4 linked regions of the Homo sapiens genome follow. The protein of the gene in region 2 purifies or fractionates together with the protein of the main gene of each other region. This does not show direct contact. Each region holds a gene or a part of one and is shown on either strand. Other genes may lie near its edges.

Region 1 (3,500 bases), on a different chromosome or scaffold from region 2:
AAACTAATGTAGGAATCTCACCTAAAGTTCTACTGTTTTGCTGGCAAGTTTCATCTTGCAAAAAATCTAGAAGTTCTTCATCTACATAATTTGACGAGACTCTAGGAACTACATAATTAATATCTTCGGCATTAAACTGTGTGGATTCTTCAAACTGAATATTTAATGTTTCATTGTCTGAACGTGTTTCTTCTGAATGGGACCATGGACTACAAGTTCTTGTTGAAAGATTAGAACAGTGTTCATTTTCTTCAAAGGCACTATTTTTGGTCCATATTAGCAATCTAGACTGTGTTTTCCCAAGCATATTAGCACTAGAATCTGTATTTTCATTTCCCAAGTTGAGTGTTTCAAAAGAAAATGGTAAAACAGAATTACTGCATTGCACTTCAAACACTGAAAAACAAGAGTTTATACCAGATCCTTCATTAATATCTGAAAAGAGCTCTTGATTGCCAGCAAGCAGGTGTGAATTGAGCACTGTGCTGTCTAAGATGGGAGAGAGTCTAACTGGAGAGTCTCCTCCAAAACTCTCCCCATCAGCATCACCGGAGCTGGATGAACAGCACTCCCAAAACTGAGCCAGATTGCCAAGGTCCTGCAGGAATAAGCCCTCAGCACCTACGGAGCTGGTAGAATCTGTCCATATTGCACGTTCCCCTTGCAACTCCATACCATCTAACACTATGCAACATTCTGCCTCAAAATCTGTGTTCTCTTTGCTTTTCTGTCGAATCATATTCAAAATCCGACTTTCTCCTTGCATTGTTTCTGAGGCACCAGGATCCAACATGGATTGATCAATATCCACTTCATAGAAGTGCGTTAATTCTGATAGATGAATATCATCCAGGTATTTATTGTCCTCTGGTAGAGAACATAATGAGGTCCCAGTGAGGTCAATATCCTCATTTATAACTGCAGGCATTTCTACAAAATGACCATCAATGAAAGTACCTGCTGCGAGGTATGTTTTATGAAGATTATTGTTGCTGATACAAAGACCATGCACTGATTCAGACAATTCTTCCACTGCCTCTGATGTCAGATCACTTGTATCCTGTCTGTTTCGGTATGTGGTCTCTAGTTTACTTTTTCTGCTCAGAGGAACAAAATATTCAGCAATTGGCTCGGTGTACCACAAGGGCTCCTCTTTATACTCTGTGTCCTTTCTATTCTCCATGTACAGGTCTTTTCCTTCAGTGCTCCCAGGATCTTTTCTCCCTATTTCTTTTAAAGGTCTCTTACCCCGCTTGCACAGCTGTTTGACAGAACCACTGCTGCTACTGCTACTACTTCCAGTATGAATGTTCCTTTCAGCCTTTTCACCGTGCTTCAAAGAAAGCCTGCTTTGCCCATTCCGCCCTTTTTTGTTTCGAATCTCTCGTGCCTTGTGTCTTACTTTAACATACTTCATGGATGCTTTTAATTCTCCCTGATTCCCACTGGAACTTGAGCCTGCTTCACTGGAGCCAGAAGACCACGAGCGAGGGCGAATCTTTCCTTCAGGTTTATGTCGGATTTGCTTTTTGTACAAAGCAGGCTTTTCTTCAATTGTGCCATTACTAAATTTGTTTTCCTTCTCGTTTTTGCTTTTGCTCTGGGTTTTCTCATGCACAGTGGTGGGTACTTCACTGCTTCTTTCCTTGGTGACTTCACTTTCACTGTTGCAGTCCTTAGGAGAGGAAGTATCTGTGCTAGCTGGTGGGGCTGTGGATGATGAAGAAGAGCTAGAGTAAGAACAGACTTTAGACTTGTTCCACACAGTCATGATTTCTTGCAGGCAAACTGGTTTCTCAGAAAGTGGTGGAAATGCTTCATAGTACCTGAAAAACAGAGTAAAGACTTCAAAACACGAGTATGCAGATTTTTTAGATACAGTAAAACAACATTACCAACCAGAAGAATGGAATATTTCATTTTAGTAGTGTCAACATTCACATCATCCAAGAATCATTAACTTTACAATAATTTATAATACAGTAAAATATGCTTAAGATTAGTCCCATGCATCAAGCACCATTTTGCTCAGCACTGTGATACGCACTGTAAGATTACTGAGAAAATATGTAAGATGACAGTTTTTATCTTCAAAGTTTGCATTTTAATTAAGAAGTCAAAAAGGACAAATAGTAGAAGAAAGAATGCAGTCTCTTCAGTAAGCATTATCTGAATTTGAATCTCAGCTAAGTCACTATTGCTTGCGACTTTAAGCTCATTATTTACTGCTTCAGACTATTTCCTCAACTGCAAAATGGTGATCCTATGACTTACCTCCCAAAGTTATTGTGAGCGTTGAAAATATATGCGGTTAAAAAGCTCGGTAGCAATCAGTCAAGAGTATGAGCTCTGAAGCCACATTCTCTGAGGTCAAATCCTGGCTCTGCCTGCTTTACTAGCTGTGTGACCTTAGGCATGTTACTTAACCTCTCCATAGCTCAGTTTCCTCACCTACAAAATAGAGCTAGTAATATTTACCTCTCAGGGTTGTGAGGAGTAAAGGAATTAATATGCAAAATGAGTTGGAACAGCAGCTTCTTACGTAACTGCTAGCATACTGCCTGGCATTGAAGCAGGCCCTCAGAAAGGGTAGGAATGATCACATTCAAGTATTCAGAAAGAGGATGTCGGTGAGGCCTACAACAATTAAAGTGGGCCACAACTGAGCCTTGAAATTCCAGATTTATTCCACAAGTTTAGTGAGTACTACCTGTGAGGCCTGAGAGCCTGTGTGAGGACACCAAGACACACATGTTATGCTCACAGAATGGAAAACTAACTAGAGCTGTGATCACCAGAAATGCAGCGTAGAAAAAGCCAGGGAGGCTGGTTTCAGGGGGCTTGAAAATGAGAAAGTATTTTTGATTTGCTAGGAAACTGGGGGCCACTGAAGATTTCAGAGCAGAACAGATTGCAAAGGGCAGAATTTAAAGTCACATTGGCTACTGGGGACTGTTGTTTCAGAGGCAATGCTCAAGGTCACACATGAAGTGGTAAAAGGCCATGTTTTCAAAGGGCCTGAACTTGATTCTCTTTCTCAGTCTATGTCAGAGTTGACCAACAGAAATATATTTTGAGCTTCATATGTAATTTTAAGTGTTCTAGTAGGCACATTAAAAACATAAGAAATAGGTGAAATGCACTCCAGTAATATATTTAACTAAACTCCTGATATTATCATTTCAACATGTAATCAATACTTTAAAATGTTTAATACTTTACTTTTTTTTATATATAGTCTTTGAAATCCAATGAGAATTGTCCACTGACAGCACATCACGGTTTGAACCAGCCCCATTTCAAGTGCTCAGTAGTCACACATGGCTTACAGCTTCTGTGCTGGATAATACAGGTCTATACAAACCAAGGAAATGCTATTTTTTTCTTAGGTTTCAGAGGTTCGAAAGATTAAAATAAAATGTATAATAGGGAAGTCTGTTTATAATGCAGATTATTTTAAGACTATTTACGAACAAAAAAATAAAAGTATCTTTAGGAAG
Region 2 (4,184 bases):
ATCTAACTCTCTTCCGCTCTCCCCACCGCCCTCCAGATTCTTGGGAGTTGGTGAAGGAAAGGAAGGAGTGACCGTCAGCAATAATACTTTAACACAGAGCCTAAGAAGTCATTCAACAGTTCTAAACCCTACTTCGCAGTCAGACAAGGACAGTGATTAGGGTTTTATAAAGCAGGCATTCTGAGGAATCGTCGTTTACTAACGTTAAATATAGCTCATTAAAATAAATAAATATTAACGCAAAAAGGTACTAAGAGACTCCAGAGATCTTAAGTCTATTCTCTCATACAGAAGAGGTTTGCTCAAGTTTGGCTTAGGAAGGTTGGAAATGGAGCATTCTGGAAGGATGGAAACCCCCTGGCGCACCCCACTCTATGGGGCTGCAAATGCCCACACCAAGCACACGTTCGCTGCAGGGGCTGAGTGCAGAGCCTGAGCTAGCAGGTCAGAGTAGGGGACACCTTTCCTACACGCATGGGTTATTCCCACATCAACACCAAGCCTGGGGCCAGCTGGTCAACCAGGCACCTTGCTCTCCTCCGTTCCCTGAGCTCAGGTGGCATAGGCGTTGCCGTGAGCTGCGGAGAAATCTCCACGCAGAGTCGCCTGTTGATAACCCTCCAGTTAAAACGTTCTTGGCAGCGGGAGCCCCTCAGATGTAAATTTCCCTTTCACACGCTTGAGCTTCAGGTATAATACAGCAAAACGCACTTACCTAAATACTGACTGTCTGTTCCTTACTGGATCTGACTGTACTGAAAGTTTTTTTTTTCTTTTTCTTTTTTTTTTCCTCCCTCCACCCTTGCGCAACAACAGCAGTCCTCCAAAGAGAATGTTTGAATTGAATTATATGAAGCCCTCCTTTCTTCAAATGAAGTCACGGACTCTGATGGCACTGGCTTGTCAGGCAGGACGACCGGACTGGGAAAGAGACCAGGTAGAAACTAGTGACCTAGTGACGGGTGAGGGGCGCCAAGTGGTGCGGACCACAGTCTCAACCCCCGTTCCCTCTCGGTGGGAGTCAAGGGGGAAAAGCCCTTGAATCCCGAGACGGGGGGATGGGGCGACGCTGCAGCTGGAGTACTTTTATGTCTGGGAGCTAAAAGGGCTTTTGAATTTAAAAAAACATTGCTTGGGTTGTCGCGTCAGCCATCAATGACGACAAGAATAGTTATTTCCCAGAAATTAAAAAAAAAAAAAAGGAAAAGAAAAGCGTGAACAATAGGTTCTTACCTCCATGTATCCCAAGAAAAGGAAATGTTGTAGAGACCAGGAACTTGTCCTTAATTTGAGGGCGGGGGGCGGATGTTCAGAGAAAACCCTCAGTGGGTGTTAAAAATTACCGATACATGCAGGTTTGGCATTTAATGAATATCGTGCTTTCCTCATTATGTGTCAATTGTGAAGTAAAAGTAAAGATTAAAATGTTTCTCAACACAACTATACGGAAGAGGAGGTGATAATCTTGTCAGTTAAGTCCATAGAAATGTTCATAAAAGCAAAAGGCACTGACCATATTAACATGCCTATTAAACACAAGGGTTGGGGGCAGACAAGTATGAAGAGTGAGGCAATTAAATTTTTCATGTAAAGTCTATTCTTGAATTTCAATTTATCAGAACCAAGATAATCAGGGGTTTCTTCTGATTGCTCCTCTCTGAAATGAGTACTCTGTGTCCAATTAACTGTTCACCAGCTAATTCACAAAATCAGAAATGTACTGACAAATACTATGCCTGAATTAAAATACAATGCCTAAAATAACGTGCTTATGTGTGATTTGAAATATTTTAAGAAAAAAAAATGGTGCCCTCAAAACTCACAGTCCTCTTCCTACCATTCAGTGGCATTTTAGTGCTTAAGGTCTTGCTAAATTCATAAAAATACACTTTGCAACAAAGTCTTCCTTCAGTCATGTAATTGCTTATCATGAACAAATGCTGACCTGAACAACCTTCTGAATATCCGACTAGCGAACTTTCCAGACCTTGCAATTGTCAGAAGGTCTCTTTTAAGCTCTCTCTTAGATAAACCTATAAAATGTGACATTTCAAATGGCACAGGAATGTGTGCCAAGAAGGGTTAATGGGGGTGGGGGCGATTAATGTCCGTGTAACCCATAATATAAATGAGGACAAATATTTTAAAAATAAAGAAGGTAAAAGATATTGGGGTAATACATGGGATATTGGGGTAATACATTACATGGGTTATGTCTTAGCAGTGCAGTTGCCACTAACATACTAATTAATAAATATGGCCATATGGATCTTTCAGTTCTGAAAGTAACAAAAATGTGAAAAATGAAATACTTCAACAAAACAGAGCTTATTAAAAATAGCAATAGTTAAGTTTCTAGTAACAGATAAAGAGAATAACTTACCAGAGGAAATTTCAGGAAGCAAGAAGACTGTGAGAAAAATACATCCAGGATTCAAATAGATATTCCATGATCTTCCAAATCAAGGTAAAGTAGTGAGCTGCAGGGTAGTAGGACTTTAAAATAATCAGCAGTTCCTGGTGGCATGTAACCAAGTAAAAACCAGTTACACAGAGAGCCACGAACCCCCAAGGCAAGAAAGCAGAATGTGAAAATGCTTTATATGGGGGGGTGGGGAATGGTGGGGGGTGATTCGTGGTGATCCTTAAGCAAAGTGAAAATTTACAGGCTGCACATCCCCATACAGTGGGGAAAGGCAGAAGCTGTGTAACCCCAGAGAACAGGAGGTGGAATACAGATAAATCTGCAAAGAGAAGTAAAAGGATGTGTTGAAGACAACGAGATAAAGAGAGAACTAGTGAGCAAGGCTGTAGTCATCCTGATAGATATAGCAGCAAGAATGATTTAGGCTGCTGGGGAGGATCCAATGAGAATTCAAGAGGGCACCACTTCGGAAATCCTGCTCTGATCTTCCCACTCTCAGTTCTTTAAGAGTTACCTGCGTTGGGACCATTATCATTAGGATTAATAGTATTCCATCAGTGCATTTCACTAGTATTTCCCTTGAACATTTTCACTTGCAGCAACTGAGGGAGGCGTAGTAAGGAAGCCCAACACAACCAATTCCCCCACTCCCCAAATAAACCACTACGACCGGTCACATTACGATGACCAAATCATCAGCGATTTGCACGAGGCGGTGGGGGGTGGGGGGTGCGGGCGGTGATCGAAGGGCTGAAGATGCGGAGGAGGCCGAGTCGCTAGGCGCTTTCGGGGGCGCTGTGCCGGTGAGGCTTAGGCAAGGGGACGGGGAACCGTGGTTAGATGCAGCAGCGGCGGCAGCAGCCCTCCCAGGTCCCACTTCTTTGGCGTTCCTGCTGCCTGTGACTCAAGACAATTGACTTCCACCTGAACCCTCAGCTCCGAACGCCTTGCATTAGAAGCTAGAGCTTTGGAGGTTCTGAGGACGGTCCCTGGGGAGCAAGTGGTAGGTTTCGAGGCGCCCGCTTCCCCTCTGATTCCTGCAGTAACTGAGAGAGAGTGTGCCAGAAATGGCTTTGCTGCCGAATGCATTATCTTGCCATTTTCGTGTCCCAATACTGAACAAACGATCGCCTGATCGATCGGTAAGATTAGCTTTATTCCTTCTCCCTATTCCTCTCCTTGGCCCCATTCCCTCTGCAAGTCCAAACCCCAGTCTCTCTCTCTCTCTCTCTCTCCCTCCCTCTCTCTCTCTCTCTCTCTCTCTCCAGGAACTTCTTCCTCTTTGAAACCGGTTTCCCAAGGGAACTGCCTGTGTGACTGAGAGGCTAGTAATCTGTTTGTAGATGATTTATATTTTGGCTGCAGAATGAATCCCCCTCCCTACTCGGAGTACTCTCCTTAGAGATGATCCCCCGCCCCCTCCCCATGGGTTCGCTCTCAGAGCTGGGATCTGTATAAAGAGCGCTGTGGGAGTCTTTTGCCCTCCGCTCTAGCTCTATCTTCCTCCGGACCCCGAAGCTTAAGAATTATCCGCCTCACTCTCTTTTTTAGAAATAGGAGGGAAAGGTAGAGTGGAAATTGATTTCTTGCAGAGACTGAGGCGCTGAATGATAGAGGGAATAAACATTTGCCCTGGATAAAAATGTTCTTGGTAAGTAATCTTATTTTCTGCGGTTGAAAAAGAAACAGATTGCTTCTCACTGCCCCATCCCCCACTCCATTCATTTATTTGCTCTCTGTATGTAAATCACGAGCTGGG
Region 3 (3,500 bases), on a different chromosome or scaffold from region 2:
CTGCTGAATTTCTGGGGGCTAATCAGCTGCAGGCCCTGGCCACCCACTCCTGTCCTTCCCCCGGATGAGTGTCTCCAAGTGTACTCTAGGCTGGTCCTCCAAAGCAGCCCCCTGCTCCCCGCATCATCAGTTTTATGTACTGGGGCTCCATGTGAGGTTTCTTTTGACAGGAGTGCTTTCCCTAAACAAAGGTTTGGGAAACAGTCTAAGACTATCGATGTGTGACCAGAAGACAGTGTCATTGGCCTAGGGGTCATTTTCCCGTAAGGTTCTCAGTGAGCTAGGAACTATCAGTCAGCTTGGGTTACCTCAATGGAGGCTTTCACACATTAGAAAAAGAAGTGTTCCTTTCCCTGTAGACCAGGAATTCAGAACGGTCAAAGATCGCCCAAACTGCCTTCCCCCCTCTCTAGCCAAAGTCAGCTGAAAACGCAGTTGGAGCCAAATTCTTCCCCAGATACTCCATTTTAGTCACCAGGTAAAAGACACAACCTGGAAATTGCCACCTTTGTTTACTTCCTATTTTCCATAATTCTGGGTCCATAACCACCTTCCAAATGAATAAAATCCTTGGTCTGAAAATGAAGCTCGCGTGGATCAGAATGTCCCAGTGACCAGGAATCAACTAGGAAGCTGCCTTCCTAGCAGGACGTGCGGGGCAGGGAGGAGAAGGGGAAGGAAAGGGAAGAAGGTGATAGGGACTGGGTCCCACACCAGAAGGGCTGAGTGGCCTCTCTCCCTGCAGCTGTTCGAAGGGAACATGCACTATGACACCCCTGACATCCGAAGGTTTGACCCCATTCCGGCACAGTATGTGCGGGTATACCCGGAGAGGTGGTCGCCGGCGGGGATTGGGATGCGGCTGGAGGTGCTGGGCTGTGACTGGACAGGTAAGATGACATTTCCTCCTCTTTGCATCTCACCCACATGGTCCTCTGACCCTGGCATCCCACGAGGCCCTGGGAGGGCTGTGGAGGGGGCAGCCATCCCAGGAGCTGGAAATGCTGCAGACCCCTGCCATGTTCTCCTGCCTCAGACCACGGGTACTGCAGCCTCTGGACTTGGGACAGTTTCTCAAGGGATGTACTTTGTCTTTTTTAAGGGATCATTTCAGTTCTCCAACCCGAGTCTCTCAAAAACAAATCATAACCACACACCACCCACCCAAATTCAATTAGACCCTGGCTCTTCAGGCCAGAGGGCTGTGGCTGTTGATTTAGGGAAGAAAAAAACCCCTCATGATAATAAAGTAATCGGTTTATGTCTGAATCTGGCCTCCAGATGTCAGTGGCTAAGAGACTTCATTTTCATTTCGGAGCCACATCTGTAAAAGGCATTTATTTGCTCAGGAGGGACCCTGTTGCAGGGAGCTGATGGGGGCAGGACTCCTTCTCATTGTCCTGCTCATTCCTGCCAGGTGGCCCAGGCCTTGGGGAACACCTCTCATCATTCCAAATGAGGGTGAGGCCCACGGAGGGTGCCCAGCCTTCCTGGTTTCCGAGGGAGGGCCCTGCCCTTCTGAGTCAGGCCCTACCTTCCTTTCCTTGGGTCGCCAGCCCTCCTCCCTCAGCAGAGCTGGCACCAGATCTTACCCAGAGCTCACTCACTGCCTGCCAAAAGGAGTTTGTGGGAGCCACTGGGGCTCAGGGACTGAGCCTGATGCCAGCAGGAGCAGCCACCAGCCTGAGCTATCCTGCCCTCCTCCGCCAGAGCCCCAGGTATCCCCATTTTCCTGTCTGTGCCGTACCTGTCACGGGCTCAGCCGGCAGGATGGCATGAGGGATTAATAAGGGCATGTCGGAGAAGTGCTTTTGGCTCCCAGGGAGAAAAATGCTGCCTGTATGCTGGCTACAGCAGCGCAGAGGAGCCCTGTTGAGGCACACGGGCTGGGAATTGGGCCCAAATTAGCCTCCTCACTTTTGAATTGAAGGCAGCCCCAGCGAACACATCTTCATAGGAAGACACTTAACTCCCCATTACCTGGGGATGAGGCCAAAGTTCCCTGCAGCCTGCTAAACGTGTGTCACCCGTCCTCTCACAGGTGCAGAAAACCTCCCCCCGATACAAGCTGGCTTCATTTATGTGCCCTGGAATCAGGGGCTCAGCGCTGTAGGGGATCCAGGAGCTTGTAAGCCAGTGGCTTTCACACACTTCTGCCCATGATACACAATTTAAAATAATTTTCCTTCACAACCCGCTTCACTTATAAGCACTCACACACAGTGGTGTATACGGGGTACAGTGTATGGGTAAGTGCTTGGACTCTGGAGACAGATTGCCAAGTTCAAGTCCTGCCCCTGCCATTGGCTGGCTGCATAACCTCAGAAAAGTTAGTCTCTCAGCGCCTTGGTTATCTTAGCTGAAAAATGGAGAGGACAATAGTCTGTCTACCCCATAGGGTCATTGTGAGGATTAAATGAATGAATGGATGTGAAATACTTAGACTACTGCCTGCACCCAGCAAACCTGTTATGATAAATAACTGTAACTGAAACAAAAGGTTCCCAAAGCAATGGTCATCTTAACCATGGAAGTGCACTCCAAAATATTATAGTCGGTATGTTTTAAAAGCTGGTCATGACCTATTCGACGGATTCCACAACCCAATGATGAGAGTGATGCGTGGTTTGGGAAATATCACAGACCTGGGCCAATTCCTCTTTCATAGACAAGGAAACAGCCCCAGAAGGTAGAAGTCACTTGCCAGAGGTCACTCAGCTGGATGAAGTCCACCTCATTCTTCCCCCCATCCCTTGCCCTTCAGTGCCATGCCCTCCCAGTCTGGCCAGTGGGACAGTTGCTAATGACCTCTTTCCTTCATTGCTCCCCAATCCCAACATGCCCCAAATTACACTGGTGATGGTCAGTGACAGGTTTCTTATTTCAAAGCCCTGCCTGGCCATTCCTTGGAAGATCAGAGTTGAGGAGCGTTCCCCTCTGCCCAGCCTCCTTTCCTTTGAAGTCTCTGACATCTGGTTTCAATTTCAGGGGTAGCGTTGCTGTTTGATGGGCAGTTACCTTGGAGCACCCAGTACAAACATAGTACAAACAGTATAAACACCGAGGCCTCGGTGCCCGCCGTTCCTCCACTTTCATTTACACGCCCTGCCCTCCGGTGCCTCATTGGCCCCTGGGTTTAACATTCTTTACACCAATCAGCTGACCCATTTTGCTACCTAACATTTCCAGAAACTGTTCTCCATAGGTCACGTGGCTATGTTTGCTTTTCGAATTTCCATCTGTTTCTCACACTCATCTTCGGTTCACTTCTTCATCCCTATCCCAAAGGATAACAGGAAAAATAATGGGCTGGGCTGAGCTGCTGCAGCTAAATACTTTGACAGGGCTGCTTCACCTGTTAGTTGGTTTGTGTTTCAAATAATTATGTTTTGCCTTACTGCCCCATAGTTTGCTTTACAATCGAGTTTCTATGACACAGTGACAAACTTGAACTTACAAATTAGGACACTTCGAGGTTATTTGCTATTTACTGTGAGCAA
Region 4 (3,500 bases), on a different chromosome or scaffold from region 2:
ACATGAGCCAGGCGTGCTGGTGGTTCCTGAGTATGTAAAATTCTGTCAGTCTAAATCTACAGACGCACCTATAGTCCCAGCTACTCAGGAGGCTGAGACGGGGGCCCGGAAAGCTCAAAGCTTCAGTGAGCCGTGATCGCGCCACTGCACTCCAGCCTGGGTGAGAGAGCGAGACTCTGTCTAAAAAAGAAAAAAAATTGAATAAATAAATGGAGGAAGATAGACAAATCAGTTTCTAGAAGAATTATAAATATTTTGAGTAGCGAAACTCTCTGTCTCTTAAGAATGGGCTACATGCAGTGACTTCCTTACCAAGAATACAGTACAGGGAGGGGTGAAAGTAACCTGACTGTGAGGAAACCTGGCAGATACTACCTCAGTCACGTGGTCAGGAGCAGCGTCAACATCGATAAATCGTGTTGATTTTACCCGCTTGCTACGGTGTGGTGGAAACGACTCTACCTCTGTGGCTTTTCTCCCCAAAACAGAACCCCAATCTAATCAGGAGAGAAACGTCAGATTCCAGTTGAGGGACATCCTACAAAATACCTGACTAGTACTTCTGGAAACTGTCCAGATCATTAAAAGCAAGGAAAATCTGAGAAACGTACATTCCAGAGGAGCCTTAGGAGACATGACAGCTAAATGTAAGGTGGTGTCTTGGAAGGGATTCTAGGATGGAGAGAAGGCCTTGGGTAAAATGAGCAAATTTGAGTGAAGTATGGACTGTAGTTGATGATGTGTCAGTACTGGTTTGTTAGTTGTATCTAGTATAATGTACTAAAGTGAGATGTTAACAGTAGGGGAAGCTCTCTTTGCAACTTTTCTGTAAGTCTAAAAGCATTCTAAAATAAGGTTTATTTTTAAAAAGAACCCCCTTCATGATAGGTTCTCTCCCAGGATGTGCCCCGGCCTTACCGCTGTCCCTCAACCGCTGTGCTCCAGCCACGTGGTCTCTTTCTGGCTTCCCTAATCTAGTGCTTCTCTGCGGGGTGTGACTTTCTGCCCTAGAGGGTGTTTGGCAATGTCTCGAGATAGAGGTATTTTTAGTCATCACAGCTGGGTGATGAGGGGGATGCCACAGGCTTCATGCTGGTGGGGACCAGGAATCATATTGAACACTCTACGTTTCCCCAAAGAATCTAAGAGTTGCCCAGCATGTCACTAGTGTAAGCCCTGACCCTTTGGATTTAGGGTTCCCTCTTTTCCTTCAGGTTCCTGACCCTGGTCTCTCTTTGCCCTGCTTTAGTTTTCTCCTTAGCACTTAATTATCAGCATCGGATATACTCTGTTTACTTGTCTGTCTGTGTCTGGCCAGGAAATGTATCTTCCATCAGGACTTGTTGGTAATTTGGTTCACTTTTGAATCCCCAGCGTCTAGAACTGCACCTGATACATAGTAGATGCTCATTAAACCTATGTAAAAGGAATTAAATAATTAATGAAAGGGGTGAGTGGATGATAAAGACAACACATACTCATGCTAAAAAAAAACCACAGTAGAGAAAAATGCCACAGTAATCATTCCCTCAGCTACCTGTTTCTCTACCGGTTCTCCAGAAGTTACCACTGTTAACAGTTGCTTGTCTGCCTAGACTTTTCTGTCCATTTTAAAGTATATCCGTGGGTACATTGTATCTACCCCCCTTCTCCTCTCTTTTAAATAAACATAAATAGGATCAGCTTCGTTTTTCCAGTTTATATAGCTAGACATATGTCAACATACAGAGTGCTATCTTTTAATGGCTGCATGATAACTTTATACGTAGAATTAAGCAAAAATACTTCTAGTACTTGCAATAGAATCCTGGTATAATATTTTGTTGTACAATGGATGATGGTAAAAATGTCTCCTAAAACATAATGTGACTCCTAAAACAAAAGACACTGCTTGCTAAACATCATCCAAGTGTTTCTGGTTTTGTTTTTTTGTTTTTGAGACAGAGTCTAGCTCTGTTGCCCAGGCTGGAGTGCAGTGGCGCGATCTCGGCTCACTGCAATCTCTGCCTCCCGGGTTCAAGTGATTCTCCTGCCTCAGCCTCTGGAGTAACTGAGATTACAGGCTTGCTCCACCATATCCTGCTAATTTTTGTATTTTTAGTAGAGATGGGGTTTCACCATGTTTTGGCCAGGCTGGTCTCGAACTCCTGAGCTCAAGGGATCCGGCTGCATTGGCCTCCCAAAGTTCTGGGATTACAGGTGTGAGCCACCGTGACCAGCCTCTTTATATGTATTTTTATTTCTAGTTTGTAAATCCCTTGGGATTGGGATCTTTGTCTTTTATTCCTTAACACCATGCAAGGTTCTGTCTGATAAGGTCCTCCATACCTGTAGGTTGAACTTTTTATTTGTTTTGATAAAATTACAAGATTATTTTATAATATTCAAATTTCCCTGAGTATTAGAACTGTTGACTAAATGGAGATACTTAAAGAGATAGTTTTGGGAGAAAATTGTTTTCTTATTTTGTTTAAATGATAATTGTTCTCCTAGAAGCCAAAAATCTGTCTAATTTCTGACTTTATCTGGAGAGGAGAAGGCATCATAGCTAAAGAACAAGTTAGGGTGGCCAACTTGAACGTGGTTCAATATCAATTAAGCTTTAATTGCTTTAAGCACATCAGGTCTTTTTTTCCCCCTAAGGCAATGACTTATGGGGCAGAGTTGGCAGTAGCTAAGTTAAGATACTATAAATTAATGTTGTCGTACCAATTTCAACTGGGCTGTCAAACCCACCCTCCAGTTTGCTCTTCATTTACCTCTGGTAGCATTCACATTTTGTGAATATTAATTTGAGAGTCACTTTGCAAGATGACAGTGCTGTCCTTTGTGAAGCTGTGTTGATTTACAAGATGAATTTGTTGGCAAAGGGGAACAGTTGATCTGAAAATAACTGTCCTGCTTCCCTGGCCAGACCTCAGCCCAGTGGACTTCGCCCACCTTCCCATTTGTCATTGTTAAAGGCAACGTTTTCTTCATTTCTTCAGTTTCTCTCTTTTCTCCGCCAGTCACCCAGGGACTGTCCTGCAGAGTCTGCCACCATGTATTAATAGACTGATTTGACCCTTGACGTGTGTTAGCTTAGAAGATTTAGCTTTTGTGTGTGTGTGTCATCTTCTCATGGAGGGGCCCAGGGTGACAGGTTGTTCGATGCCCTGAAGATAGGAGACATTCTGTGAACAACTGGTTGTTGACAGCAGTGGTGATAAAACATTGATATAGTTGGTAAAGTTTGCTTCACTGACTTAGAGAGGAAAAATGCTGTTTGACATCAGGCTGCTGAATTCTGGTTTTTCTTTTGTAAATTGCCTTTCTTTGGGGCTTATGTTGCTGATAAGTATTATACTTGATATAATTATTTTAATACTTTTAAGTAGTTACATAGAGCGAAATGAGACAATAAACCCTTACATTATGTAGGGAGTGAACTTAACCATTCTTATACAGAAATAATATAATTTCAGGATACATTTTGAAATGAGATTACAAGCTGTTCTTAT

What was found. Proteins that work in one complex are often made in the same cells at the same time.
Region 1: the proteins of BRINP3 (region 2) and KIAA0232 purify together in Homo sapiens (affinity purification with mass spectrometry; 2 studies listed by BioGRID and IntAct, with this or other methods). This does not show direct contact.
Region 3: the proteins of BRINP3 (region 2) and NRP2 purify together in Homo sapiens (affinity purification with mass spectrometry; 2 studies listed by BioGRID and IntAct, with this or other methods). This does not show direct contact.
Region 4: the proteins of BRINP3 (region 2) and FAT1 purify together in Homo sapiens (affinity purification with mass spectrometry; 2 studies listed by BioGRID and IntAct, with this or other methods). This does not show direct contact.

The regions. Positions count from the first base shown.
Region 1 is NC_000004.12:6,859,227-6,862,726, reverse strand, and holds part of KIAA0232 (uncharacterized protein KIAA0232), read right to left. Parts: intron 1,827-3,500; coding exon 1-1,826.
Region 2 is NC_000001.11:190,475,065-190,479,248, forward strand, and holds the start of BRINP3 (BMP/retinoic acid-inducible neural-specific protein 3 isoform 1 precursor), read right to left. Parts: upstream 2,801-4,184; 5' UTR 2,384-2,800; intron 924-2,383; exon of another isoform or gene 716-923; intron 1-715. UniProt on the Homo sapiens protein: Inhibits neuronal cell proliferation by negative regulation of the cell cycle transition. Promotes pituitary gonadotrope cell proliferation, migration and invasion, when overexpressed. May play a role in cell pituitary tumor development.
Region 3 is NC_000002.12:205,745,001-205,748,500, forward strand, and holds part of NRP2 (neuropilin-2 isoform 2 precursor), read left to right. Parts: intron 1-745; coding exon 746-890; intron 891-3,500.
Region 4 is NC_000004.12:186,710,357-186,713,856, reverse strand, and holds part of FAT1 (protocadherin Fat 1 isoform 1 precursor), read left to right. Parts: intron 1-3,500.